Homo sapiens: one gene and its partners. The protein of the gene in region 1 interacts with the protein of each later gene in a biochemical or structural test. Each region holds a gene or a part of one and is shown in the gene's direction. Other genes may lie near its edges.

What was found.
Region 2: the proteins of CYTIP (region 1) and SLC15A5 interact in a test that uses a peptide from one of them, tested with the Homo sapiens proteins (one large-scale study listed by IntAct).
Region 3: the proteins of CYTIP (region 1) and ARHGEF16 interact in a test that uses a peptide from one of them, tested with the Homo sapiens proteins (one large-scale study listed by IntAct).
Region 4: the proteins of CYTIP (region 1) and RASSF6 interact in a test that uses a peptide from one of them, tested with the Homo sapiens proteins (one large-scale study listed by IntAct).
Region 5: the proteins of CYTIP (region 1) and MAP2K2 interact in a test that uses a peptide from one of them, tested with the Homo sapiens proteins (one large-scale study listed by IntAct).
Region 6: the proteins of CYTIP (region 1) and DLG5 interact in a test that uses a peptide from one of them, tested with the Homo sapiens proteins (one large-scale study listed by IntAct).
Region 7: the proteins of CYTIP (region 1) and SLCO1C1 interact in a test that uses a peptide from one of them, tested with the Homo sapiens proteins (one large-scale study listed by IntAct).

The regions. Positions count from the first base shown.
Region 1 is NC_000002.12:157,414,119-157,417,855, reverse strand, and holds the end of CYTIP (cytohesin-interacting protein), read left to right. Parts: intron 1-1,712; coding exon 1,713-2,179; 3' UTR 2,180-3,237; downstream 3,238-3,737. UniProt on the Homo sapiens protein: By its binding to cytohesin-1 (CYTH1), it modifies activation of ARFs by CYTH1 and its precise function may be to sequester CYTH1 in the cytoplasm.
Region 2 is NC_000012.12:16,274,536-16,279,481, reverse strand, and holds the start of SLC15A5 (solute carrier family 15 member 5), read left to right. Parts: upstream 1-1,796; coding exon 1,797-2,157; intron 2,158-2,956; exon of another isoform or gene 2,957-3,289; intron 3,290-3,630; exon of another isoform or gene 3,631-4,946. UniProt on the Homo sapiens protein: Proton oligopeptide cotransporter.
Region 3 is NC_000001.11:3,471,521-3,475,771, forward strand, and holds part of ARHGEF16 (rho guanine nucleotide exchange factor 16), read left to right. Parts: intron 1-1,557; coding exon 1,558-1,710; intron 1,711-1,872; coding exon 1,873-2,002; intron 2,003-3,187; coding exon 3,188-3,262; intron 3,263-4,251. UniProt on the Homo sapiens protein: Guanyl-nucleotide exchange factor of the RHOG GTPase stimulating the exchange of RHOG-associated GDP for GTP. May play a role in chemotactic cell migration by mediating the activation of RAC1 by EPHA2.
Region 4 is NC_000004.12:73,572,497-73,575,440, reverse strand, and holds part of RASSF6 (ras association domain-containing protein 6), read left to right. Parts: 3' UTR 1-2,944.
Region 5 is NC_000019.10:4,103,468-4,107,718, reverse strand, and holds part of MAP2K2 (dual specificity mitogen-activated protein kinase kinase 2), read left to right. Parts: intron 1-4,251. UniProt on the Homo sapiens protein: Catalyzes the concomitant phosphorylation of a threonine and a tyrosine residue in a Thr-Glu-Tyr sequence located in MAP kinases. Activates the ERK1 and ERK2 MAP kinases.
Region 6 is NC_000010.11:77,804,175-77,808,425, reverse strand, and holds part of DLG5 (disks large homolog 5), read left to right. Parts: intron 1-481; coding exon 482-630; intron 631-1,497; coding exon 1,498-1,668; intron 1,669-2,254; coding exon of another isoform or gene 2,255-2,330; exon of another isoform or gene 2,331-2,527; intron 2,528-2,564; coding exon 2,565-2,761; intron 2,762-4,251. UniProt on the Homo sapiens protein: Acts as a regulator of the Hippo signaling pathway.
Region 7 is NC_000012.12:20,693,746-20,698,647, forward strand, and holds the start of SLCO1C1 (solute carrier organic anion transporter family member 1C1), read left to right. Parts: upstream 1-1,586; 5' UTR 1,587-2,062; intron 2,063-4,902. UniProt on the Homo sapiens protein: Mediates the Na(+)-independent high affinity transport of organic anions such as the thyroid hormones L-thyroxine (T4), L-thyroxine sulfate (T4S), and 3,3',5'-triiodo-L-thyronine (reverse T3, rT3) at the plasma membrane.

The DNA.
Region 1 (3,737 bases):
ATCTCTTCTTTAAATAGCACCAAGCTTAAGTCTGTAACCTAGAATATCTGTTAAAAGTGATAATCAATTTGTTTACCAAAAAAGATAACAATTTAATCCTTAACTAGTCACTAATTTATGGCTTAGAGTTCTGGTATGAACTTCTGTTTTTTTTTTTTTAAATTGAAGTGTTTGAAACTTATGTACAAGTTACTTCTCTTTTTTATGTCTTCATTTAATATTTTTAAAAAATTCATAATAGTTCTTTTGGGTAGTGAAGTTTGTTAGAGAGGCAGAAATATTTAATACAAAAACTTCTTTATGGCCTTGTAAATTCAGCCACCTCCTTGCTTTCTTTAGACATGAGGGCTTTTTAGCCTCATTTCCACTTCTGGAGCATCCTGAATGGCCCAGTGAATATAAATTCTTGCTGTTCTATAGAAACAGCCTTGTATAGACAACATTGTTAGGTCAGGATCCTCATAAAGTCATTGTTGTACATATTTTTTGAGCAATTGAAGGAGTTCTGCTTTTTCTAGATGTATAGTAAACATCCAGGGCATGTGATTCTATAAGGCAATTGCTCTCCAATCAAAAGAAATTCATCACTTATTGCAAGATGAAATGAAGTAGGTTGTATTAGCAAAAAGGAAAGCATTATGACTAGTCACCATGGGGCTGGCTGTACTCAACCTTGCAAATCATCTGAAAGAACAGTTTCTTTTTATATTGTCAACCGAGGACAAAAGACAGCAGCAGTGGAGATAATCAGTACAAAATAAAACCATTTTAGAGTGTACAGTATTCTATTATTTTTTCTGAAGCATAGTCACTTACTGATTACGTTTTTCCAAGGCTGGTATTACAAGTTCTCTCTCTCTCTCTCTCTCTCTCTCACACACACACACACACAAGATACCAACCAACTCAGTTAGTGTGGAAGCAGGGAGGGTCATATTGGTATGTGATTAACATTAGAGTTTGAAGAGCCAGATGTACGTTGTTAAGGATCAATGAAAAAAATTTAGCCAAGCAGATAAAATTCAATTTCTTCAAATAAATTATTACTTACTTGAGGACAAGGATGATTTCTGGGTACAGTATCATTCCAGAGAATTTAAGTATTCCAAAACGAAACTGGGAATATTGAGGTTGGAAGATACATTTGATTTCACAAATCCTTTCTCTAAGAAACACTTTTGAATTACCTGTTCCATAACTGTTTTCTATTTACTTCAAATGGTTTTATAATAATTTTAGAATTATTTTTAAAAGACAGTACCTAAGAATCAGAGAAACTAAGTGGAGAAAATCATGATAGTATTTCCCCAAGTGTATTCTATGGAACCCCATTTCTGTGAGAATTTTAATAAAAGGTTTCAGGGTTATTTAAATTTAAGAAATGATCATTTTGGAGGTTCAGATGCCACACTGGTAGACTGTCAATTGGGCTGAACTGTTCTCATATGAAACATCTTGTTTAAATTTATTCTAATATTATAATTTTTGTGACCATGGAACCTTGGTCTATGAACAATAGTTCAGGAAACCCTACTATAAGGTTTATCAAATGGTCTCATAAACAGTTACTTATTCAAGCACGCCAAAGCTCAGTGAAAAGTATTTTTCACCCTTACTCTTTCTCGTGTCATTCAAAGAGAAGTTTTGATGTAGTGTATTTATTTGTAGGGAGTAATGAACAGATCCATTTCACAGTAGACTTTGTGCTCTAGGTGATGCAGCTAATTGCCCCAGTTTGGAAAACATGGACTTGGATGAATTGTCTTTGTTTGGACCCCTGCCTGGGCCAGGCCCAGCCCTTGTGGACCGGAATCGATTATCCAGTGAGAGCAGCTGTAAGAGCTGGCTGAGCTCCATGACGATGGACAGTGAAGATGGCTACCAGACGTGTGTGTCTGAGGACTCCAGCAGGGGTGCCTTCAGTCGGCAGACGAGTACAGATGATGAGTGCTTTATCCCCAAGGAGGGGGATGATTTTCTGAGGAGGTCATCTTCAAGGAGGAACCGGAGCATCAGTAACACCAGCAGCGGATCCATGTCTCCCTTGTGGGAGGGCAACTTATCAAGCATGTTTGGGACCCTGCCCCGGAAGAGCAGAAAGGGAAGTGTCCGAAAGCAACTCTTGAAATTTATCCCTGGCCTTCATCGTGCTGTGGAAGAGGAAGAAAGTCGCTTTTGACGGATTGTGGTGTCCTTTCAAATTAGCTTATTTCACAAATATCTCTAGACTCACCCAGATCCCAGCTTGGTGGGAAAGTGCAGAAGAATTGCAAAACTGACATCCCATTTCACAGCAATAGTGACCTTTATTTAAATTGTTGTGTTATAGTTTATGCTTCTTAAATCATTTTTCAACCTAAACAGCCAATTTCTAAGCAGACAGGAAAACTAAATAATAAGTTAATTAATATAACAAAGATGCAGGTTCCTGCTCATTCCAGTAATGTCTTTGAAAGCAAAACTAATATTTATTTTCTAGATTATCCCTGTGAATAATTGAGAACTTTTTGGAGTCAAGTATGAATAAAGGTGTGGCAGAATATAATAATCTGGACTATTTTCTATAGGATAATTGCTGGGTTATAAAATCTTAGGTTTGCTTATGCCCAGTAGCTCCTGCGGAGGCTTAATAATAGGCAATTTTGAATTTGTTCAAACCTGTAATGGCTTGTAAACAAAGATGACCATCAGCTGTTTCTCACATCTATAGTGACAATAAAGCGGGAAGTATAAGATTTAATAGGAGGGGTTAAGGTTCATGAGAACCATGGAAAGATGTGGTCTGAGATGGGTGCTGCAAAGATCATAATAAAGTCATTTTTATAGACAGTCTAAACAAAATGGGTGGGGATGTCGTGTTTTTTGCCCAATTCAGCTTTTGTTCTGCCTGAACATTAATGGCAAGTCTAGAACTCTCCGAATCCTACAGCTTTGTAATTTTTTTTCTACAAATGTCTAACATCCAAAACTGAGGGTTGGGAAAAGGACTTCCCTCCTGTAGTTTTTTTCATATTACTTCTCACTTTATATCTTATATTCTAAATAGCTATCACCTCAGCAGTCTTTTGCCTATTGGTTATGTTAGTATCACATTACTTCTAGCCTTTCAATTACTCCATGTTTTATTTAATATCCATTGAAGTCTATGAATTCTCTGTTCTGGTGGCACAGCTATTCATAACCTATATTCTAGAGTAGACAATCTGGACTATGTAATAAATAGTCTGCTGATTTTAAGTTCTCTCTCTCTCTCTCTCTCTCTCTCTCTCTCTCTGTGCGTGTGTGTGTGTGTTTGGGAGAAATAGAAACACTTCAATTTAAGTAGAGCTGCTAAATTTAATTAAACTTCTGCTTAAGAAATGAGTTATTTTGAGATAAAAGAGGGTAGGGTAAGGAAGCATCTAAGATGAGAAAGAAATGATAAAGTATGAAAAGATTTCTAGTTGGGACTTGCCTTCTATTAACTCTTTGAACTGAGAAACATCCAGTGGCCTGTGCATGACAGTCACTCATATGAAAGGCAGGGTGTCACACCTTTCACAGAAATGATAGCAATACTGTCTACCATTTACTGAGTACCTAGTTGGCTAAAGACACTTTACGTATGATCCTCACAATTACTATATAGTAGGTGTTAGGCATACAGATAACAAGTCAGGAATTTGGAAATGTTCTCAGGGTCACAAGGCTAGTCAGTGGCAGGGCTAAAATTGGAAGCCAGTTCTTCCTTGCTCTAG
Region 2 (4,946 bases), on another chromosome or scaffold:
GGTATTTTCATCATGGAGGCAGTTTCCCCCATACTGTTCTCATGGTAGTGAATAAGTCTCACTAGATCTGATGGTTTTATAAGGGGTTTCCCTTTTCGCTTGGCTACGATTTTTCTCTCTTGCCTGCTGCCATGTAAGATAATGCCTTTTGCCTTCCGTCATGATTGTGAGGCCACCCCAGCCAGGTGAAACTGTAGGTCCATTAAACCTCTTTCCTTTATAATTATCCAGTCTCGGATATGTCTTTATTAGCAGCATGAAAACAGACTAATACACTGCCATCTGAATAACTCAGCTGCCACCATGCCCATTCTTAAGTCATTCCACTCAAGATTAAAATTCCACAGGAGAAAAGTAAAAGGACTATCTTAGACCGGGTGTTGACCCACTTGGTTAGAAGAAAAGGCATATGCTGATCAACAGCCCCACCATGATCTCAGGTAATAGATAGGAGTCATTCTCCAAAGGTAGGGTGAACACATGTTAGAGTGTTGCCCTGGACAGTCCCAGTTTATAACTGTTTTTTTTTTTTGGGGAGTAACCATAAATAGCATCACTTTTCACCTGCACAAAACTGTCCAAGTTTGGATCATAAATTGCATGATCAATTTACACAAAGGAAATTTAGGGCATCGTTACCAAAGTAGCAATGCTGAGCAGAGACAAATAGCTACCATTACAATGAGGCTATTAGAAGGGGTCAAAACAGAGTATTTTGCCCCCAGTCTCTCACAACCAAAAGATGATAACCAGAGTCAAAAGTCCCTATTGGTCTTTAGGTTTTGACTACAGCATGAAAATAACATTCCTATACTCAAGTGTTGAATTATTATGACTTTGACCCAATAGTTCCGGTCCCTTTTCTTCCTATGTCCTTGCAGCTAAGCCACTAAATGTTAAGGTGTTCTCTTTCACTGCTGCTTTTTTAGCTTAATTGGCCCTCCTGCTTTCCAAAATAGAATGCTAACACCCATTCACCCAGCTGAAGGGTCAGGGTGATACCAGATCCAATATTCCCCAAAGCCTGTGTAGGCTGGTTGCTGTATCCCTGACTACTGATTAATAATAAAGGAGTTAAATAGCACCTTTTGATTCTGATTTCCTCTGAGAGGCTGTTCTACAAGCATGGGGTCAACTAAAAGGAAGCAGGGTTTCGTTTAATATTTTCTCCTTTCATTAGTGCACTTAAATTACTTTCTTGTAAACTCTGCTTGTTACCTAAATGTACTAGCACTTTTGTTACCTAATTAAGTTTCTTATCAGAATTCCAACCAAAAATAACAAGAAATGTAATAATGATAAGATATCGTGCCCTTCAAAACAGATTTCCTTTTGCGCTTTATCTCTTGGTACTGTTCTGGCTTGTTTAATTAAAGTATCAGAAATTATTAGACTCAAATTATTTCTTGATCTAGTGCTCAAATTCTCCCGAAAACCTGCTTCTTCTGCCTCAATATTTAAACCTTTATCAGTATGAGGCAGATGAGTTTCCACATGTTTGCAACTGGATTCATGTAATTCAATACAATTTTGGAGGACGATCCTAATTTAGCCGCTAAGTAATTAAGCAAACAAATCAGATTTGGGTACACTGAGCTACTGTGAACATTTAAATACTCATGCTCTTGGATCATCAAAAGGAACAACGTCCATGTGCAAAAAACAAACCTTATGAAATTCTAGCATGGAGATGTGAAATTCAAAGCAACGTTCTTATTTTTTTCATCAGAGGGATGGGGCTCAAAATATCACCAAGTTCAAACCACTAACATAAGTTTTGTTCAAGGAGGGTAGTCATGTCTGTTACAGGCTTTACCATAACTGATGAGAAAGTACACTTATATCACAGCATTGAGAAGGAGAAAACTGTAAGACATATTGGCGATTTGTGTTCCTCACACTCTGTGAAAAAAATTCAGGTTGGAATCTGCTTGCTTCTGGTGGAGCTGTGTGAGAGGTTCACGTTCTTTGAAGTCGTCTGCAACATGATCCCCTTTTGCACTATCAAGCTTGGCTATCACAATTGCCAAGCAGCCATCTTAAACTTGTGTTTTATTGGAACTTCAATACTTACCCCTGTGTTTGTCAGATGGCTCACTGATGTCTATTTAGGAAGAAACAAACTGGTGTACATTTGCTTGTTTCTACATTTTCTAGGTGAGTGTCCTCTGCTGACTGGATTGTTTTGTGACTTAATTAAGTAGATTTTTGTTAGAATTTTTAGTTTATATTATTTTCACTCTGCTCTTAGCATAAAATGTGATAAATGAAGTAAGAATGTGGGTTCAATGTATTTCATTCTTTGTACTATTTGAAGAATGCTAGTAAGTCTGTGTGTGTGTGTGTGTGTGTTAGAGAATGTTTTGTGCCTATATCATTGCATTTATATTTTATAATAATTACTCCTTTACATATCTATCTTACTCCTTAGAATGCCCTCCTTTCCCAAAACCTTTTTACCTCAAGCCTAAATTCATGACAAATTCCCTCAGAAATGTGAAATGTATTTGCTTCACAACTAAGATGAAATGTGCTAAAAAAGGTTTTTGAAGTTCATGTAAAATAATTGAGAAATGTTTTTATCCAAAGGTGGTCTTTTAATTAGTCATATAGTAATTAAGATTGCATATGATGGCATGATTTCTATATTTTTAACTATGATTATATGCTTTAGAAATGAGTAAATTAGACACTATAGTGTGCATCTTTACATATATACTAATATATATCTGCAAAAGTTTGGGACCGATTGTGAGAAATGCTGGGAAAATATCAAGATAGTTTAATAAGAAATAGAGAGCAACTTGAAGAACAGACTAGAATTTTAAACTGAAAAGTTCAAGTTATTCTTCTTAAGCAACAAGAAGTCTCTGAAAATATCATGAAAACAACATTTGAGAAATGCTATTCTGCAATACAGGATGGACAACCACAGTGAGGAATTAAATAGAGAGAGATCAGAAAATCTCAGGATGATGGTTTAAGCAATAAAGTGCCAATTCAGGAGAGAACAAGTGAAAAGCTGTAAGGCAACTAAATAAAGGTACAAATGTGATGGGGGTCAAAAATTAGCTCCAAGTTTCTGATCTGAGCAACTTGGGAATATAGCATGCTGTTCACCAATAATGAGAAGTGCAGCTGAAATGAGTATTGGTAGGGGGACAGATGAGAAAGAGATGGATAGATATCAGGTACTCAACATATCACACAATCTCAGGCAGGTGGTAAATTACCATTCAGAGAATCCATTGGAGTTTAAGTCAAACCTGGAAACTTCACAGCTTTAGTTCTGTGGAATAAAAACTAGGTCACTGCATGGCAAATAATCACTCAACATTCAACAAATATTTCTTATTGACTACTCTGTACCAGACATTATTCTGGGTCTGGAAATGCAATAGAGAAGAAAGTCGTCTGTTCCTGCTAAAGTTGACTTTTTGGTGCAGGGAGAGAGAAAATAAAAGAGGAAATAGATATGATGTCATGTGGCAATGAGTTAGGATGGAAAAATAAAGCTGGGTAGGGGGACAGGATGGAATGGATGGTGATGAGGCTGCTACTTGGTACCGAGAAAAAGTTTTCTGATAAGAAGACATTTAAGCAAATCCCAGACTAACTTACTCTGCTTACCTTGGTAACAGGCCACACCAGTAGCATTTGTTGACTTCTTGTTTAACATGGTAATTTCTATCAGTCTAAATTCTGAGGTCAGTCATCAGACAGGATGGAAATCCCAACTTTGGAATCTGGCAAACAAAAGACTTAAGTCAACTCTACATCCATTCATTTTTTTACTAAAAGTTATTTCTTTGTTGCCCTCCACTTACAGCTGCCATCAAATTCCAACTGTCACTAAATTTCAGAGGTTATATATAAGAAAGGTCTTCTGTCTGAATTGCTACTACCCTAGCTGAAAAAATGCAGCTTTCTTCTTTTTAACCATTCCAATGGCCTACTTACTCGGCTGCCAGTTCTCAGTCAGTCTCCAGCTTGTACTCCATTCTACCAACAACACTGACTTCCTGAACAAATAAATCTCTATATTGCTTCTATTATCTAAAAAATGAAATCCAAACTTATTAATTTAGCATACAACAACCTTACCAACCTATTCTAAGTTCACCTCTCTAGACTTGTTGTTCAACACGCAACCCCAACCTTGCTAACTTCTCCTGGCCTCCTTCCCTAGTTTTCTAATCTTGTACATGCTCTTCTCTCTTTCTGAAATTGTCACCTTCCCTTATCTTTCCATCCCTTATCCATGATTGGAAAACTCCTGCTATTCTTTCAAGAACCAAATAGTGTTTGTTGCTAGCTTCTCTGTGTTCAACCACACCCATATAATACTTATACGATTGCATCCATCACTTTATAATATAATTGTCCACCTGCATGGCTGACTTCTCTGATGGACTCAACATTTCCTTCAGCGGACCCCCATCACCTGGCAGGGGGTATGACACATCATGGTGCTTCTACAGAGCTACTAAATGCAGGCATACTGATGATGAGATACACAATTGCACACATCACAGAGGAGACTTTTCTTCATATATGTCATTGTTTTGTCTCTTTACTGCATCATTTTACAACAGATAGGGATAAAGTTTTGATTTAACACAATCAGCCTATTATGACATTTTCTCAAAAGATGGAAGTAAAGTGCCTAAGTTACACAAATATATCATTCAAACTAAAAGTGCCTTGTTCCTAATAGTTCCTGCATGAAATAGTTGTCCTGTCCCTCCTCTTTGGACATCCCTTTGTCTAGCCAGGCCTCACGTCACACCTACAGAAGAGAAGACTAAGTGGTAGAAAGAGAGCAGTTAGTTTCATATCTGGCTAACCTTAAAAGGGAACATTTCAAACTCAATAATTTAAAGGGCTCACCTCATGGTAAATGAATCTGTTGCCAAATAGCTATTAAGGGCATATAGTCTTTACAT
Region 3 (4,251 bases), on another chromosome or scaffold:
TCAGCATGGGATGGGGCTGGGGGAGGGGGAGGGGTCTGGGATAGCGGCTGCCCCTCCCCCAGCTCTGCCCCCAGCCAGGCAGGCTTTGTGTTCTCTGAGCTCTGTGTCCTCCGGTCCCCTCTGCCTCAGGCAGCTGCATGTTTGCCTCTGACCTCCTCAGGGCTTTAGATTGCTGCCCTGGGGCGGGAAGCTCCGGCCTCCTCCCCCAGCTGGGCCCCCGACAGCTCCTGGCATTCACAGTGAACTGTCTGGGGAATCATCGCTATTTGGGGTAAGCGGCTGGTGGGCGGCTCTCCCAGACCTTTCTCAGAACCTGCAGTCACCCATATGAGCTGCTGACCGGCCTGGCCGGCCTGGGCACGTACGCATGTCGTGGCCCTGCTCATCCAGCAACCGAGGCCTCCCATGACCTGCTGGGTCCTCGTCCACGGGGACTGCAGCTCCATCTGCTGGGGATTCTCAAGGGCAAGCAGCTGTCAGGACACTCTCCCTGCAGGAAGCGTGGCTCCTGCGTGGGTGGCAGGCCCAGTCGGGCCCCGTGAGCAGAGGAGGAGGGACTCCCGCCCACCTCCACGCTGGGTAAGGGAGTCCTCCGAAGGACAGAGCTCTTGGGCTGGGAGGACCTCCTGTGGCGGCGGCCTGGAGACACGGATGTGGTCTCGGGTTGGGTGCTCTGAGGGTCTGCAGGATGGACGAGGCTCCAGCCACCGCCTCACACAGCAGGTGACCATCGTGGGTCCAGCCAAGCCCAGCCTTGGTGGCCGTGGCCGCCCATGGGGGCAGAATCCTGGCAGCCCTGGCCTAGCTCTGACCAAGTGTTAACTCCCTTCATCCTGATCACCCTGGACCAAGGCCTGGGTCATGGGGAGGTGAGGGGCTGGTAGCCCCTTCCAGGGAGTCTGCCAAGAGCCCACAGCTGGCCCCCCCCCGGCCTTGACTGTTCCCTCAGAACGGGGTGGGGGACCTAGTGAAAGTAAACAGTTCATGAACCCAGCTGGGAGCTTGACCAGCAGAGCTGCCTCGGATTTGGGACTCATCCTTGGAAGGGGTGGCCCCAGGCATCGCCCCTCTTTGCTCTTGTGCCTGTCCCCTGAGTCTCCGTCCTTGAGTTTCTTCCCAGGGGCAAGCTGGTGCGGCAGCGGGGGCCCGGGCCTGTGTGGAGGCCCAGTCGTTTTAGCTGGAAGGAGCTTGAAGGGCGAAGGGCACCAACTGGACAGGGCACCAGGACAGGAGGTCCAAATGGGCCCGCCTTTGGGGACAGTCCCTGGGGCTGCCCCTGGACAACAGAGGGACGGCACCAGTGCGTGGGATCGTGGCAGGGGGCTCTGTAAGGAGCCCCAGGCCTCTGACCACTTCCCACCCGCCCTCCCTGCTGTCCAGCATCCCAGGTCCGGGTCCCGCCCCAAGTGCTTGCTGTGTGCTGCCTCTGGGAGCTGAGCTCAGCTCCTGCCACGTCCATGTATGTGTGAGTGTGCATGCAGATGCATGTCTGTGTGTGCACACGTGGGGCCCGACCACCAGGCCCGTGGCACCCTCCTCACCCCTCCTTGCCTTCAGGTTCTTCGAGGACCTGGAGCAGCGGCACAAGGCCCAGGTGCTGGTCGAGGACATCAGTGACATCCTGGAGGAGCACGCTGAGAAGCACTTCCACCCCTACATCGCCTACTGCTCCAACGAGGTCTACCAACAGCGCACGCTGCAGAAGCTGATGTGAGTGGGCGGCCCCGAGGCCCGCAGGGTGGCTCAGGAGCATCCTGCACCCTGGTCTCCCAAAGCACATTCCTGCTCCCAGCCCAGCTTCTGCAGGTCCTGCCTGATTTTGGTACAGGCTGGCCATGCAGAGCCTGGAAGGACAGCCTTGTCCTCTTGCAGAAGCAGCAACGCCGCCTTCCGAGAGGCCCTGAGAGAGATTGAGAGGCGGCCGGCGTGCGGGGGCCTGCCCATGCTCTCCTTCCTGATCCTCCCCATGCAGCGGGTGACCCGGCTGCCCCTCCTGATGGATGTAAGTCCACGGCCTGAGGGTGGGGCCGGGCATACCATCCTGGGGTCCCACGGCCAGAGCCCTGCCCCGGATGGAGCATTACGTGCTTGTGACCTTCTCCTCCAGGCTTGGCCTATGATATTGTAATAGTTACGATCCTAAGATGGCTTTATTAACCAGGATAACTTTGTGGTCGCCGCCACCCACAGAGCTCACTGTGCCGGGAACTGTTCCAGCCCTTGGCGGATTTGTGTTCACTTACTCAATGGTTCATGAGGTTCAGGCACACTGACGAGTTGGAACTGGCATCACCCAGAGCCCTGCTGAGCCTCCTCCCAGCCCCCACCCCACCAGTCCTCCTAGACGTGGTAGCCCTGTCCCTGGCACCTACTCTCCCTGTTCTGTGGACGCAGAGAGGGGCTCAGAGAGGCTCACCAGCATGGGCTGTGTGTGTGGGATGCCAGCCCACAGGGCAGAGGGTATATGAGGGTGAAAGGTGTACACACACACGCACACATGTATATACAGTGTACACGCACTCAGGCACGTATGTGCCCATGTGCACACAATGCATATGTATGGATGCACGCCAGTACACACATGCATGCACACTTGCACACACTGCATTGCACCGATGCATGCACATGTGCACACAATGCACACGTTTGCATACATGCACACACAGGCACTGCACACACATGCACCCGGTGCACACACATACACGTGGATGCACACACATGCATGCACATGGTGCACAGGCATATTCACACATGTGCATGCTGCCCATACACACAGCCCCGCACATGGCAGGACTGAGCTAAGCTTCCTGAGGCTACACATGGCAGGGTTGCCCAAGCCAAACAGAACCTCAAACTCCTGGGGGCCCCAGGGATGTGCAGAAATGGGGCTGCCAGGGGGCCTCCACTGACGATTCCCCAAGTTGGATGGAGATGGCCGAGGATGGGAAGGGAAGGGTTCCAGGCAGGGGTGCTAGCTCCTGTTCCCACTCAACCTGGCCTGACCTGGCAGAGCTCCAGGTGGTGCAGAGGCCGTTCAGGGGCTGTACGTGCTGTGGGGCCCTGCAGGAGCCCCCTGGGGGCAGCTGTTGACCACCCTGCAGCCCCACACGGGGTCTGGCGTTGGTGGGAGCCTCCACACCTGGGATGCCAGAGGGGACTTTCTGTCCCATGTCTGTTGTCCATCCAGACGCTCTGCCTCAAGACCCAGGGCCACTCCGAAAGGTACAAGGCTGCCAGCCGTGCACTGAAGGCCATCAGCAAGGTAAGATGGGGCCTGGCCCCAGCCCTACCCGAGTCCTGTACCCCGACCCTGTCCCCACCCAACCCCACCCTACCCGATGGCATAGGGCTGGCTTCCCCTACCTTCCAGGGCAGCGAGTGTTCTCAGATTATCCATCCCAAGCCTTTCACAGCGCTGACAGGGAAACTGAGGCCCAGAGGTTCCCAGATTATCCATCCCAAGCCTTTCACAGCGCTGACAGGGAAACTGAGGCCCAGAGGTTCCCAGATTATCCATCCCAAGCCTTTCACAGCGCTGACAGGGAAACTGAGGCCCAGAGGTTCCCAGATTATCCATCCCAGGCCTTTCACGGCGCTGACAGGGAAACTGAGGCCCAGAGGTTCCCAGATTATCCATCCCAGGCCTTTCACGGCGCTGACAGGGAAACTGAGGCCCAGAGGTTCCCAGATTATCCATCCCAGGCCTTTCACGGCGCTGACAGGGAAACTGAGGCCCAGAGGTTCCCAGATTATCCATCCCAGGCCTTTCACGGCGCTGACAGGGAAACTGAGGCCCAGAGGTTCCCAGATTATCCATCCCAGGCCTTTCACGGCGCTGACAGGGAAACTGAGGCCCAGAGGTTCCCAGATTATCCATCCCAGGCCTTTCACAGCGCTGACAGGGAAACTGAGGCCCAGAGGTTCCCAGATTATCCATCCCAGGCCTTTCACAGCGCTGACAGGGAAACTGAGGCCCAGAGGTTCCCAGATTATCCATCCCAGGCCTTTCACAGCGCTGACAGGGAAACTGAGGCCCAGAGGTTCCCAGATTATCCATCCCAGGCCTTTCACAGCGCTGACAGGGAAACTGAGGCCCAGAGGTTCCCAGATTATCCATCCCAGGCCTTTCACAGCGCTGACAGGGAAACTGAGGCCCAGAGGTTCCCAGATTATCCATCCCAGGCCTTTCACAGCGCTGACAGGGAAACTGAGGCCCAGAGGTTCCCAGATTATCCATCCCAAGCCTTTCAC
Region 4 (2,944 bases), on another chromosome or scaffold:
GAATGAATACAATGGATAAAGCAAGGCTGTTGTAGCTGAAGTTACATAGGGAATCCCAAACTCTGCCCTCTTAGCATCTTATTCTACATGACAACTCTCAAGGTACTCACAGATCTGTTTAACCCACTTGAAAAAAAAACACTAAAAATGAAGAAATGCTATAAGTATAAACTATGATTTTATTTATAAATTCTGTATTAAAATGGAATTATATGCAACATTCTTTCATTCTGTAAACTAATTCCATTTGCATTCCTCATAAGCATTGTAGTAAATTGATCATATTACATGTACTAAGGAATGAGATTATATGCAGTAAACCCAACTGGAAGATTAACAATATTAAAATATGAAACATTTTTAAGACAAAGGCATTACTTCTCAGTATTACCAAACCTAAACTGGTTGAAGGTGAAAGTGTGCTATGGCCTTTTCAAGCCTAAGAAGTCTCTCTTACTGAGTAAACCAGAGGCTTGCATCGCTATTCTTTCACCTGTCAATATTAATAAGAAAATAGTCTCATCTCACTTAAATGAGGCAAATGTAATAGTTAAAATTCAACATACTTATAAAAAACTAGTGTCATGTACCTGCCATGAACATGACAAAAGGTTAGTCTTCAATAGACTGAAATGTATAAGAGAAGAACCAAGTCTTACATAGAAAAAAAAGGTAGATATGAAAAGAAAAATCACAGAAGAGAGAATGCAAATGGCCACTAAGTATATGAAAAAAGTCGTATCTTAACAGTGAACAACTGTGTTAGTCTGTATCAATCAGAAGACAGAAACAAGGTAGTAATTTAAACAGGGAAAGTTTAATATAAATAATAATTAAGCTATGATAGGAGAATAATAATAAAGATGAAAAGAGAAGGTACCCTAAGGCTGAGGGAAAGAATCCTAACAAGGAAAGGCAGGAATGAGGGTTTCAGAATTCACTGGAGAAGGTGTGGTTGCAGCCCACTGGAGAGAAGTTTGCTGGCTTGCCCAGGCCAGAGCAGGACCACAGATACTGGACAAGCTGGTACAGCCAACCCCCTAGGTGTGGACCAGCTGAGGCAGGTGGGCAGATATGCAGAGGGACTTGGGGCTTTGCCAAAGGGTAAGCACAAAGAAGGAGTCACGGGTTCTGTTCGAGGCACTGTTGGGATTAGGAGCCGGAGGGACCTACTTTGCAGGAACCTAGCATAACTTTGTGTGACGAGACTGCACAAGACAAAGCTCAGGCAAGTGGCTCAGTAGTTGGCCAGCCCAGCAGGGTCCTCTGTATGAGTGTGCACCCAGCTGAAGAGAAGAAATGGAGAGCAGCAATTGGAGCTTCAGGACCGGCTTGCACTGTGGCTCCAGGTTATACCACCACTGCCCAAAGCAAAAGCTAGAGAAGCAAGTGGAGAAATGCTGGAGAAAGCTGCACCCTACAGGCAACCAGCACTGCAGAAACCACTCCAGGCAAAGTAGTGAAGGAAAAAAGCCTGCTCTCCAGTAGCCTGGCCTGTCAGCCTGGAGGAATCAGGAAAGACCCCTTCCTCTTGCAGTGTGTCTCCAGCGCCCTCTACTGACAAAGTATGCCATCATGCAAGCTGCAAAGGAAACATTTCAAGAGTCTATATCTATTTTCACGGAGCGGGCAACCAACAGTGAATGTGGAGCTGAGAGACAGTAAAATAATAACTGACATGCCACCGAAGTACAAAGTAAAATAAATAAATAAATACACATTTTGGCCTATTAGCAAAGATTAAGAAATGATAACATTAAATACTCAATAAATCACCATGAGATGGGGACTCAAACTTCTGGTAAAAATACAAATAGATATAATTTTTCTTGAAGGCAATTTAGTAGTCTGTTTATCCTATAATTCTACTTGTAAGATCCTATCATATGAAAATAACCAGAGATACAAAGACATTCTGCAAAGATATGTTTTATATTGTTATTTATTGTGACAAAAGGAAATAAAAAGCCTAAATGTTCAGAAAATTATTTTAAAAGATGAAAGAGGGAAATAGGCCATGGACGGTGGCTCACGCCTGTAATCCCAGCACTTTAGGAGGCCAAGGTAGGTGGATCACTTGAGGTTGGGATTTCGAGACCAGCCTGGCCAACATGGTGAAACCCTGCCTCTACTAAAAATACAAAAAATGAGCCGGGTGCAATGGCAGGCACCTATAATGCCAGCTACTCGGGAGGCTGAGGCAGGAGAATCGCTTGAACCCGGGAGGCGGAGGTTGCATGAGCCGAGATGGCGCCACTGCTCTCCAGCCTGGACGACAGAGCAAGACTCCGTCTCTAAAAAAAAAAAAAGAGGGAAATAAACATTTATTTGTATATTGTTATGTAGCCATTAAAATTCTGTTTCCAAGTAATTTTAATTACAGGGGTAAATTCTTATATATCTAAATAAGAATATACACATACACATGTTCCAAAATATTTATTATGTACTTAAGGCATATATATTATATATGTATGTGTGTGTATATATATATGTATTTGTGTGTGTGAACACTAATATTTGCATATATATACACACAAGAAATAAAAACATGTTAAAAATGGCTATATCTGCATTGTAGAATTATGAGTGATTCATGTTTTTCTAACTTCCCTATCTGTATTAAGTGTTCTATAGTTTATATTTGTTACTTTTTACATCAGGAAATAGTAAAGTTATTATTTAAAACTTATGAACAAAAAAGTAACAAGCACATGCAAGCACAGAGTTCTACCAAATGCAAAAAATTTCAAATCAATTATTCAAATGAGACATTAACATCACTTCTGTGGTAGTTTTATATCCATAAAGTCTGATTCTTCTCCTTTGAAGAGATGAAGCTTAATCTTCCTCATCCTGAAAATGGGCTGGACTTAGTGACTTACGTCTTTTTATTTTATTTTTAATTGACAAATAATAATTGTATGTATTTATGGGGTACAAT
Region 5 (4,251 bases), on another chromosome or scaffold:
TGGGGGGTAGGGGGTACAAGGTCTCTCTCTGTCACCCAGGTTGGAGTGCAGTGGCATGATCCTAGCTCACTGCAGCCTCCACCTCTTGGGCTCAAACGATCCTCCTGCCTCAACCTTCCAGGTAGCCGGGACTACAGGTGCACCAGCACGCTTGAGTAGCTTTTTAAGTTTGTTTTTTTTTTTTTTTTTTTTTTTGAGACGGAGTCTAGCTCTGTCGCCCAGGCTGGAGTGCAGTGGCACAATCTTGGCTCACTGCAAGCTCCACCTCCCAGGTTCACGCCATTCTCCCGCCTCAGCCTCCCGAGTAGCTGGGACTACAGGCGCCCGCCACCACAGCCGGCTAATTTTTTGTATTTTTAGTAGAGACGGGGTTTCGCTGTGTTAGCCAGGATGGTCTCGATCTCCTGACCTCGTGATCCGCCTGCCTCTGCCTCCCAAAAGTGCTGGGATTACAGGCGTGAGCCACCGCGCCCGGCAAGTTTTTTTGTAGATATGGGATGGCACTATGTTTCCCAGGCTAATCTTGAACTCCTGGGCTCAAACGATTCTCCCGCCTCAGCCTCCCAAAGTGCTGGGATTACAGGGGTGAGCCACCGTGCCCAGTGATGTATTTATATAAAATGGCAAGCACTTGTTGGTGACTGGAACTTAGGAACAGTGGGGCTGGCTGCTTCCCTGGGGTCTGAACCTATTACTGGATAACTCGGGGCAAGAACCCAGTGGACAGTGGGGCCTCATGGGATGGGGAAAGGAGAGCCAGTGGCTTACGGACCTCGTAGAGGTGCCCCTTGGCCTTTCTGGGGGTCTCGTCCTATCTGCTGAAGAATGCCCGTCTTGTTCTACTGTAATGGAAACTGGACATGTCCATCAGTAAGGGAGTGATTAAAGAATGATATTTGGCTGCTTTGCAGTGGCAAAGTGAAATCCACAATGGTGTACTGAATGGGAGTATCCCCACAGTACAACACTATTCATGTAGTGGAGGGGTGGTTGTAGAAAATAAACATAGCATGGGCTGGGTGCAGTGGCTCACGTTTGTAATCCTAGCACTTTGGGAGGCCAAGGCAGGCGGATCACGAGGTCAAGAGTTCAAGACCATCCTGGCCAACATGGTGAAACCCCATCTATACTAAAAATACAAAATTAGCTGGGCATGGTGGCGCACGCCTGTAGTCCCAGCTCCTCAGGAGGCTGAGGCAGGAGAATCACATGCACCCGGGAGGCGGAGGTTGCAGTGAGCCGAGATCATGCCACTGCACTCCAGCCTGGCGACAGCAAGACTCCATTTCAAAATAAAAGAAAAATAAAATAAACATAGCATTGGCCCATTCATTTGTTTATTGTATTTTCAAGTCAGGGTCTTGCTCAGTTGTCCAGCCTGGAGTGTACTGGTGCTGTCCTCCCACGTCAGCCTCCCGAGTAGTTGAGACCACAGGCGTGAGCCACCATGCACAGCTAATTTATTTGCTTATTTGTGTAGAGATAGGGTCTCTCCATATTGCCCAGACTGGTCTTGAACTCCTGGCCACAAGTGACCCTCCTGCCTCGGCCTCCCAAAGTGCTGGGATTACAGACATGAGCCCATTTCGATGTTGTTTTAAACTCTGGCTGGGCAAGCATGCTTTAATCCCAGTGCTTTGGGAGAATCCCATGAGCCCAGTAGGTCGAGGCTGCAGTGAGCTATGATTGAGCCACTGCTCTACAGCCTGGGCAAGAGAGTGAGTCCCGAGTCTGTGTTTCCAAATACACAGCAAGATGCGGGGGCCAGGTGCTCACTCCTGTGATCCCAGCACTTTGGGAGGCTGAAGTGGGAGGACCTCTTCAGCCAGGACTTCGAGAGCAGCCTGGGCAACATGAGGAACCCCCGTCTCTACAAAAAATTAGCAGGACATGGTGGCGCGCCTGTACTCCCAGCTACTTGGGAAGCTGAGGTGGGAGGACTGCCTGAACCAAGGAGGTGGAGGCTGCAGTGAGCCAAGATCACAGCACTATGCTGCAGTCTGGGCGACCCCTGCCTGAAAGAAAGAAAGAGAGAGATGAAGAAAGATCTGGAACAATATAAGTCACACTTGAGGGGGGAATGGTGGAAGTGATGCGGCGTCCAGGTTATTTATCCTCATTTGAATTTTTTATAAGAAAAATGTGTTTGCCGGGTGCGGTGGCTCAAGCCTGTAATCCCAGCACTTTGGGAGGCCGAGGCGGGCGGATCACGAGGTCAGGAGATCGAGACCATCCTGGCTAACACCAGTAGTGAAACCCCATCTCTACTAAAAATACAAAAAATTAGCCGAGTGTGGTGGCGGGCACCTGTAGTCCCAGCTACTCAGGAGGCTGAGGCAGGAGAATGGCGTGAACCCGGGAGGCGGAGCTTGCAGTGAGCCGAGATGGTGCCACTGCACCCCCGCCTGGGCAACAGAGCGAGACTCCGCCTCAGGAAAAAAAAAAAAAGAAAGAAAAATGTGTTCACCTACTACCTACGTAACAAAATTACAGTTACAAGACCATTTTAAACATCACACACACACACACACACACACACACACACACACACACACACACACACGGTAGACGTGTATGGTCATGCACAGAGTGAGATTTGGGGTCAGCAGTACACAGCTGCAATACCCCCTGCACCACATCCTGTCTCTGTGACTCAGACAAATTGCTTACCCTGCCAGACTTTGGTCTTTATAGCTGGAGATCAGCCCTTCTCAACCAGGGGCAGTTCTCCCTCCCAGGAGACACCTGGCACTGTCTGGGGATGTGTGTGGTTGTCACAACTGGGGGATGCTCCTGGCGTGGAGTGGATGGAGGCCAGGGACGCTACTCAGCGCCCTGCAGTGCCCAGGTCGGCCCCACCCCAGAGAGTGACCTGGCCCCGATGTCACAGTGGAGAAAGGCGGCTGCAGAGAGAGCGATGCTCCTGTGAGGCGTCTTCCACCAGCTCCTGAGGCTGCAGCACAGCGCTCCGCCCGCCCTCATCTCCGGGGAGAGGCTCTTTGAATTTTCTCACTAAACAAACATTGATTGCGGCCCCAGGAGAAACGAAGACGGAAGGAGCTGTGCTGGGGAGCAGGGGTTTTAGGGTTGCGTTTGGTGCGTCTGTTTGGTTTTCGCCACCCTGCCTCTTTCGAGTCGTTGGTCTCTTTCTGGTTTTTGTTTTTTTGAGACAGGGTCTTGCTCTGTCACCCAGGCTGGAGTGCAGTGGTGTGATCTCGGCTCACTGCAACCTTGACCTCCCAGGTTCAAGGGATCCTCCCACCTCAGCCTTCTGAGTAGCTGGGACTACAGGCGTGCACCACCACGCCCGGCTGATTTTGGTATGGGGTCTCACTGTGTGGCTCGGGATGGTCTCAAACTCCTCAGCTCAAGCATTCTTTTTGCTTTGGCCTCCCAAAGTGGTAGGATTATAGGTGTGCGCCACCACGTGCGGCTTTTTTTTTTTTTTTTTTTAATTGAGGAGTCTTGCTCTCTCGCCCAGGCGAGAGAGAAGTGGCACGATCTCGACTCACAGCAACCTCTGCCTCCCAGGTTCAAGTGATCTTCCTGCCTCAGCCTCCCGAGTAGCTGAGATTACAGGCATCCACCACCACGCCCAGCTAATTTTTTTTATTTTTAGTGGAGATGGGGTTTTACCATATTGGCCAGGCTGGTCTCAAACTCCTGACCTCAAGTGATCCGCCTGCCTCAGCCTCCCAAAGTCCTGGCATTACAGGCGTGAGTCACCGCTCCCAGCCCATGTCCGGCCTCATTTTAAGTAATTCTTTTAAGGTAGATTGATAAAAACTGAGAATAGAAGCAGCTTCCACCTGGCCCTGGCTCACTGGAGCTCCCGTCCTGGCACCTCCTCCTGGGCTGTCTGAGCCCTGGCCATACCTGCCCTCTCACCCTGTGTGTCTGCGTCTTCAGCCTGGAGCTGGTGGATGGAGTCACGTGTATGCTTTAGAGGTCTCAAAGCGTGTTGGGTTTTCTAGAACTGCCTTCGGCCTTTCTCTCCAAGCCTAGCTGGGCAGAAGTGGCCAGAGAGCGGCAACCCGGGCACCCCTGAGTCCCAGGATTTCTCCCCCGGCTCCTCCCACCCATGTGAATGAAAGCCATCCCAGGGAAGGCTGGGCTTTTGCAGGAGTCCTGGAGCAGCATGGTGGGGAAATCCAGGCTCCCCAGCCAGCCTCTCCAGGCTCCTCCAGCCCGCCCTCTCTAGCCTCAGTTCCACTTTCCTCTCTGCTGAGCACAGAAGAGACGCACGCCAGA
Region 6 (4,251 bases), on another chromosome or scaffold:
GTGTGGTGGAGTGTGCCTGTTGTCCCAGCTATTCTGGAGGCTGAGGTGGGAGGATCACTTGAGCCTAAGAGGTATAGGCTACTGTGAGCTGTGATTGCACCACTGCACTCAGTCTGTGTGACAGAGGGAGACCCTGTTTCAGAAAATAAATAAATAAAAGCACAGGCAACATCAGCAAGAGGAAGGTCCCTATTCTGAAAAGCCCAGACTTGCCAGTCACCAGAACAGGGTTTTTCCTGGATAAGCTGTCAAGGGCAGGGCAGCCACTTGGCAGAGGACCTGGTGTCCAGGGAGCATGCACAGGACCTGGAGACTGGGGAGACCATGAAGACTCAGTCCTTCCTGCAGAGGGGAGGTAGCCAGAGTCTCAGTTAAGGAGGGATGTTGAATTTCTGCCGTATGGTCAGCACTGGCCCCTCTCGGGTGCCCAAGCTGCCCCCTGGCTTCTGCCTTCTGATGCATCCACCCCCATCCCTGGCAGTATGGCAGCCTGGACGTGCGGAACAAGACAGTGGAGGAAGTCTATGTGGAGATGCTGAAGCCCAGGGATGGCGTCCGCCTGAAGGTGCAGTACCGCCCTGAGGAGTTCACGAAGGCCAAGGGCCTGCCTGGTGACAGCTTCTACATCAGGTACCAGTGGCTGGGGAATCGGTGGGAGATTTGGAACCAGAGGAGAGGCTTTCACTGGAGACTCTTTTCCTGGTGAATGGCTCTCTGTTTCTTGCCCCCCAAGGCTGGGGCCATGATCATCATTCCTTGACACTCAATCTGCACGCTTATTTATGTTGAGATGATTGTGACTTAGAACAACCCTTTAGGGCTTAAAGAACCAGCTGGGCCCCCTCTTTAGGGCTTAAGACCTAGAGAATTTGGAGGCAGTCAAGCCCCGTTTTCCTGTGTGCTGTGCTCCTCTTTTTCTGGTGTCCCCCAAGCCAGGTTTGCAGATCCCTCTGCAGTGTGTGTGGACTTCCAGGCATCTTCAGTGCCCTTACTACTGTATGAAATGCTGTGGGCATTTAGGGATGGCAGCAGGCTTTCTAGGAGGAGCTCAGAGCTTTCTTCACATTTCCTAAGATCCAAGATCACAGAAAGCATGAGAACACTGATGCGGTACAACTCCCTGTCTCTAGGGTAGAAGATGACATATTTCCATCCTAGAGAGATTCCAGTCTGTAGGAACCAGGGGCCGGGCCTGGGCTTCGAGGAGGGAGGCAACTGGGAAAGGCCACCTGGAAAGGGAAGTTATGGCCTCAGATCTTGGTGAGTTCTTTGATGGGGATGCGCCCTCAGTGTTAGGGGAGCAAAGGCAGTCTTTGCCCCTTTATGTAAAACACAGGGCTCCCCACTTTGAGAATCACCACCCTCGGCGATTCCTGATCAAGTTTGGAGACAGCCCAAAGCAGAATGGCAGCCTTAGGGGCCTGGCCACAGAAGGCACCTGGTTCGTCCTTGGTGGCCAGAGCCGCCTGATCGTGTTCCTTCTGTGCTGTGGTCCAGGGCCCTGTACGACCGGCTGGCAGATGTGGAGCAAGAGTTGAGCTTTAAGAAGGACGACATCCTCTACGTGGATGACACCTTACCCCAGGGCACGTTCGGGTCCTGGATGGCTTGGCAGCTGGACGAGAATGCCCAGAAGATCCAGCGCGGGCAGATTCCCAGCAAATATGTGTAAGTGTTCTCCGGGCCTGGGGTGGGGTGGGGCAGGGGTCGCCGAGGGCCACCAGCCATGGAGCTGTCCCATGGGAGGGGGCTGGGGCCAGGGCTGCTGGAGGAGGGATTCTGCTTCTTATCTTAGCTTCTGCTCTCTACATTTTGCCAAAAGTGCTGGTCTAAAAAGCTGCTCCTAGTGTGAGTCAGTGCTGTATAGAGCACAGTGATGGGTCAGAAGGCATAACGTGTTTTAGAAAAATGGATTTATGGAGATACTCGTGCCTTGCCGCTCCCTCAAAGTGTACCATTCAGTGGTTTTCAACATATTGATAGGTGTGTGCAGCCGCCACTACAGTTAATTTTAGAGCATTTCCATCACCTCAAACAAACCCCAGACCCATTAGCTGTCAGCCCCTTATCCCACTGTCCTCCCACCCAGCCCTCAGCCCTAGGCAGCCACTACTTTACTTTTGATACCCATGGGTCTCCCTGTCTGGACTTCTGTGTGGTTGGGATTGCATAGTGTGGCCTTTCATCTGGCTCCTGTCACTGAGCATGTTTTCGAGGCAGCCTGCATCCCTGCATCATTTCCCTTCTATGGCAGGAAGCGTAACTCGTCATGTCACCAATTGAAGGCTGTCCTAGCAGTTCCTTTTGACACCGAGCTGAATATGCTGTAGTAGAAAAAATCGCCTGCTCTGAGAGCTTGCCCTGGTGCTGGTGTTTGTGTCACCCCCGCAGCATGTACCGAGGGTTCCCAGGGGCGTGGGAGGAGATGTAGCCTTGAGACCTGCCAAGGAGTGTGGGGGGAGCCCAGTGTCTGGCCCACCTTTGCTTTTCTCACCAGGAAGGGCAGGAAGGGCAGGGCAGCAGGGTCTCGATGGCCCTGCCCAGCATTGTCCCCTGTGCCACAGGATGGACCAAGAATTCTCCAGGAGGCTCAGCATGTCTGAAGTCAAAGATGACAATAGCGCCACAAAGACGCTGTCAGCGGCTGCACGCCGGTCCTTTTTTCGGAGGAAACACAAGCACAAACGCAGCGGGTCCAAGGACGGGAAAGACCTGCTCGCCTTGGATGCCTTTTCCAGTGACTCCATTCCACTCTTTGAAGGCAAGTGGCTGAGCTCATTTTCCAGTGGGCTCTCCAGATGGGGCTTGCTGTGGATCCAGGAGCTCCACAACAGGGACTTAAACAAAAGAGAGTCTTACTTTGCTTTTGTGCGCAAGTCTGAAGGTGTGTGTTCGGCTTGGTCGGGGGGTGCTGCCATCTTCAGAGCCACATCTATGGGGTGTGGCTTCCATCCTCCCAGTCACCGCCTGTCAATGCAGCTGCAGCCATCATGTCCCTGTTTCAGGCAGCAGGAGGAAGGAAGGAGTGGTAAGGCAGAAGTGTGCCTCAGCTGAGCGTGCCTCTTTCAGCAGCTATCTGGAAGCCCTAACCTGTGACTTCAACTTGCATCTCATTGTCCACTTGCATGTGCAAGAGAGGTCAAAAAGGCATGTTTTGGCCAGGCACAGTGGCTCACACGTTTAATCCCAGCACTTTGGGAGGCTGAGGTGGGTGGATCACCTGAGGTCAGGAGTTCAAGACCAGCCTGGCCAACATGGTGAAACCCTGTCTCTATTAAAAATACAAAAATTAGCCAGGTGTGGTGGCATGCACCTGTAATCCCAGCTACTTGGGAGGCTGAGGCAGGAGAATCCCTTGAACCCAGGAGGCGGAGGTGCAGTGAGCCAAGATCACGCCACCGTACTCCAGCCTGGGTGACAGAGCAAGATCCTGTCTCAAAAAATAATTAAAAAGAAAAGGCATGTTTTAGCTGGGTGCATTGCTGGCCTCAGTAAGAGGTTCAGTTACTGAGGAAGAATGGAGGGATAGCTATTGGGTAGGCAAGAAGCAATCTCTGCTGAGTGCCTTGCTTGCCATTTGTTTTTAGGTTCTTACAGGCTGCTTGGTAGTGACCAAGAGCTGTCGGTTTCTGCAGAACTTCGGCATTTCTGGCCTCAGTCCTGTGTTCATGAACAAGTCTTGTATAATCCTTATGGAGCAAGATGCTAGTCCAGGGCTGGAGTTGAGTGATAGGAGATGTCAGACATCCCCTGGTAGACAGCCCTTGTGGAAAGGATGCATTTGTCCTTTAAAGCAAGAGGCCCTTAGGAACGTGGCTCCCAGGGCCCTGGTGTGTGTCTACTGTCTACTGTCCTAGAATGTGCCCTCCCTGGCAATCAGGTGTGGGGGTGGCAGTGAGCAGCAGAGTGTAGGGCAGCTGGCTGCCTCCCTCCCTCTCTTCGCTTTTTACAATGAAGACCTTAGGCCTAGGGAGTTCAGTGGATCACACTGTAGTTCATGGCCCACTGTCACTATCAGCTGGGACAAGGGTTGGCAAACTATTGGCCATGGACCGAGTCTGGACTACTGCCTATTTTTAAATGGTCTGTGAGCTGAGCATGGGTTTTTACACTTCTTAAAATGTAAGATGTAAAAAAGTCTATTAGCCCTTTGCTGATAACAATTGCTTAATTTTGCCGTTTTGCCTTCAAAGCCTAAAATATTTACTATCTTGCCCCTTATAGAAAAAGTTTAGGCCAGGCATGGTGGCG
Region 7 (4,902 bases), on another chromosome or scaffold:
GGAGTTCAGGCTGTCAGCAAACACCAGGAGGTGGAAGAGGTAAGGAGGATTCTTCCCTACAGGTCTCAGAGGGAGCATGGCTCTGCTGACACCTTGATTTTTGACTTCTGGCCTCCAAAAGTGTGAGACAATAAAGTTCTGTTTTAGGTCACTCAGCTTGTAGTACTTTGTTAGTGCAGTCTTAGGAAATGCATTCATTTATATGTTGTCTGTGGTTAATTTACCACCAGAATGGCAGAGGTGAGTGGTTGTGATAGAGATTGCATGGTCCTACAAAACCTAAAATATTTCTTATTTGTCCCTTTATAGAAGTTTGTTAACTCCCTCATCTAGAGTTTGGAAATGGGAATGAAAGGCTGAAGTAGGCTACAATCCAATGCAAGGTTGCACATAAGAAGCTCTGAATAAGTGTAAACATTATGTGCATTCAAAACAGTAACATTAACTGTGGACTCTGGAAATAAGAAAAGGAATCGTGTTGGAGAGTGAGACTGAGCCAGTTGGGAATAGACAAAATTACATTCTCAAGGGAGAATTTCATTTCTTGGTGAGGAAAATTATGCCCTTTGGGCTGGTAAATACTGTCTCCTCTTGAATAAAACAGTGGTCTGGCCACCTGTTAGACACTGAGAAGTCTAGACTAACACTCAATGTATTCGGATGTTTGCTCACTATTTCCGATGGAAAAGTCTGGTTTGATTGTTAAAGTAAAATATTTGGCCTTTCAGAGTGTGAAAACACCATTGCTTCATTGCAAGGTTTAATATAAACCCATTTTTCTTGCATTTTCTTTTCTTTCTTTTGTAGTAAAATGTGCTTGAATAATATTAACTATTCTGACCATTATGTGAACTAAATATATATATATATAAAATGATGATACCTTCCGCTCATTTGCAATGTGCTTTTGAATACATTATATAATTTAATCCTTAAAACAGCCCTATAAATCTGTTTTTTTTTTTTTTAAACAAAAAAATTCTGCTTTACAAAGGAAGAAGTTGAGACTCAGTAAAATTAAGTGACCATCCCAGAGTCTCAGCCACTTAAGAGTAGGGTGAATCTTGGATAATTCTGGTAGCAAATTTATTTATTGGTAGAAAATAAATGCAAACTACTACTGCTTAAGATCCTCTAAAGTTTTTCTCTTGGAAAAAGAATGTATTAGAATTGTGGACTTTCTCAGTGCAAGGATTTATTTATCCTTGGAATTAGGCAGAATAAACAATTGAATGCCAAAAATTCAACGTGTTTCTTTTCTGTTTTCAAAACTCATAGAAATTGTAAATATGAGCAACTGATCATGTCTCTGAGAATTAACTCTTTTTGTACAGAGCGCTGCAGAGCTTTGATTGTGACCTGATACTTGGTCCTTAAAGATTCTAGAACACCAATGGAAAAGAAAACCATGTAGCAAATTAGCCCAAGAACCGTTAAAGACAAAACAAAACAAACCAAAACCAAAACACACAAACAAAGAAAACACAAGGATCCCAGTGATGTCCCTAAGGAATAGTTGGCTTAAAAACTTTCTGGAAGGAGGAGGGGTCTCTGTTATAAACTTCCGCCCTCCTCTGGCTTCTGTTCCTTACCCTCTGCCCCCTGCGGAGTTGTGTTTTCTGGGAATCAGCAAGTAAGATCACAAGTGGTCTTTTCTTTTATTCACTCTCTCCCATAAAGAAAGCTTTATCACGTGTGGCCTTAAACTTGCAGCAAATTGCAAAGAAATGGCTCAAAAGCTTCAGCTCTTTCTGTGCCCTGGGAGCTGAGATGCACGTCAGTGGCCTTGCCAGCGTGGCCAATTCTCTGCTGACTGCCAGAAAAAAGAGGCCAGGAAGAAAGAGGAAAGAGAAGAGATCGCTCAGGGGTGAGACCATGCCCTTCATCTTTTCTTTTCCCTAATCTCCTCTGCTTGTGTCCACCCACACTCTCCCCACCTGGCAAAATTGTTCAAAATTGCTGTGGAGTTTACCTCAGTTTCCTCTTTCAGTCTGTGGTGTGTGGTCCATCCTCTTGCTGAGCACATTGAAAGGAACTGGCTATCTTTGATCTCTTCCTCCAGGTAAGACTTGGTTCTCTCATTTTATATTTTGTGACTAATACATCAGATTCTTATGGGAGATTAACCCTTAATTTCTGTGCGATTTATGTTTTATCCATAAAAATATCAGTGAAAGGTGATGATCCCCTCATTAGTTTGATGGAAATAAGAGAGAAGATTGGTTAAAGAAATCAGATAAACTCAAATTTGAGTTCAAATTTTGAGTCTCATGCTTATAAATTGTTTAGCTTTTGACAAGTCACTTAATTGCTTTGGGCCATCTAATTTAAAAAATGGAATTCTAATATTACGTTTGTTGGGTTGTTTTAAGGATTAGAAAAAGTACGTACATTACTCAACACAAAAATAGTACTTATTAAATCTGAATCTGACACAGATAATTTGTATTAGGTGAGAAATTAGTTTCTAAACAACACACACTCCTCTGCAGCAAGTGCCGTGAGGCTATTTTTTAGTTTGTCTGAAGGGAGGCATCCTGGTGTCCAGAAGTCAAGCCAGGACAGAGGTTTTCCTCACAGGAGATGGCCAAGAGAAGAGAGGGAGGAGCGTGGTTGCCTTTAGGACTTTCTCTGTGGCAGTCCTTGGGGACTGATTGCTGGACAGAGTCCGAGTCAGTTGCAGAGCAGAGGGGTTGAGTACATCTGCGGGATCTAACTACAACCTTCCTAAGCCACTTGCTCTCTCCATTTAAAATCTGGAGGGCTGATTTTGAAACTAATGAGGACTGATTATTCAATGTTTTTGAACCAAAGGAAGAGAAACTGCTTGGCTTGTTTTTCTTTGGCCTCCAGAATAAGTTATGCTCCAAACCCAGGGTATTGGATGAAAACTGTCGTATGTCTTTTCCTGGAAGAATCTATTCAAGTGGCCAGAGATCAATTAAGGATTTGCCAAATGCAAATAATTCTGAATAACTGTGTACTCTTGCTCTACTTCTGCAGTTGCAAATGAAGAGAGAGAGCCTGCAGGCCCCAAGGATCTTTCCGTTCATGTCATTGAGCTTCCTTCCCTCTCTTTTTACAGGGGATGAACTGTAGCCTCCTTGGAACATACTACACTTGCAATAATTTGCGCATTAACCATCAAGACACTTCAGTAAAGCTATGCAGTGCCAATAGTTTAAGCTGGATCCTATTTTGCCCTAACACAAAGTGAACTGAGATGACTATATTTATATTTCATTATACTTTTGAATTTTAGTTACAGTGATTTTTGTGTCAACACCTCCATATATTAGATAACTTAAAATGTGCTATAGTATCTCAAGTTTTTCAGTAGTGTTTTTAACATAATTATTTTTTCTCTTTGACATTAGCATTCTAGATGTAACACTTTGGATCTTTTAAAGATAAATTTAGGATAAATGATAGCAGATTTTATTATTAAACAATTTATTTGTATTTTCTGGTCACTGACTTTAATATTATGACTGATGAGAAATAATATGATATCTGAATCCCCAAAAACAGAAGGCCAATTTGAATTATATAATTTAATCCTTTGAAGAATATTGCAATTTAAGCCAGAAATTTAATAATTATCCGTTTCTTATTTTAAAACCTTTCTGGTTTGTATATCTCTTGCTTGGCAATATTTTTACTCATAGTTTTGTAGTAAAGATACCTATTTAACATTGTATAACTCTGCATTTCCCAAACCCTGTTTTCCTTGTCCTGGCAAAATACTGTTCTAGAAAAGTAGTCCTAGTGACTCAGTAGATATAGGAAGTTGGCTGTTGGTATCAGATACTGTTAAGGAAGAATCTCTATATTCTTCATTTCTTAAACTTTGTTTTTTAAATCAGTAATAGATGTCGAATTTTATCAACTGATGTTTTTCATGTAATGAAATTCTATTTTTTATTTTGAATTATTCATGTGGTAATTTAGGTGAATAAATTTCCTGTAATTAACCAATTGTTGCATCTTTTAGAATAATTCTAATCATAGAGCAAGAGTTAATTTGGATTTGCTAGCATTTACTTAGAATTTTTATAATCTATGGGCTTGATCTGAAGTTTTCCTTTCTGTGCTATCTTTGTGCTGTTTTGTTACCAAGATAATGTTATTTTTGTCAAACTAATGGAGACAATGATTATCTGTTTCCATTATCGGCTATCTTTCCTCAAAGAATATCCCTTGATAAAGCACTTCTGGTGCATCATCTATCCTTAGTATCTTTGTTTAGGGAATAGTTTCAGAGTATTTTTGATAATGTCTTTCTTGGCTATTTTCTCTTCTGGTTTTTATCAATATAGGTAATGAATATTTGCTAGAAACTTATCCATTAAGTCAAGATATTAAACTTACTTCAACATTCGATGCATCTTTTTATGTTTTATACTCCTAAATATCTGTGTTTTATCTCATTAATATTATGTATTTATATCTTTGTTTTTTGTCTTGATTAACATTATTAGCTCTTTGTTTTGCTTATTTTTTGTTTTTAAATTTTTCTCTTTCACTCACTCTTCTTTTTCAATTAAAAAATTAAAGTTATGAATGCTTATAAAATGAATCCAAAAGCCTAATAATAATTTTTTTGAAACCAGACCCTTGTCTCATCCTTTCCTTTAGTCAATTCCCACTCCCTAGAGGAATCCACTTAATTTTTAAATTGTTGAAGTCCTCTGATGTTTTAACTTCATATTATTAATACAAAGCAAATCGTTTATACTATTACTTGATTTTTCAGTTTGAGAAAGTATGAATTGAAATGGTGAGGGATGAGGTTTAGTGAACACAAAACAAGCATTGCATAAAGTCAAGGTGATATACTCAGTCAGAATAGATTTCTGCCACAATACATGAAATTTGACTCCTAACATTATTCCTTTAGGA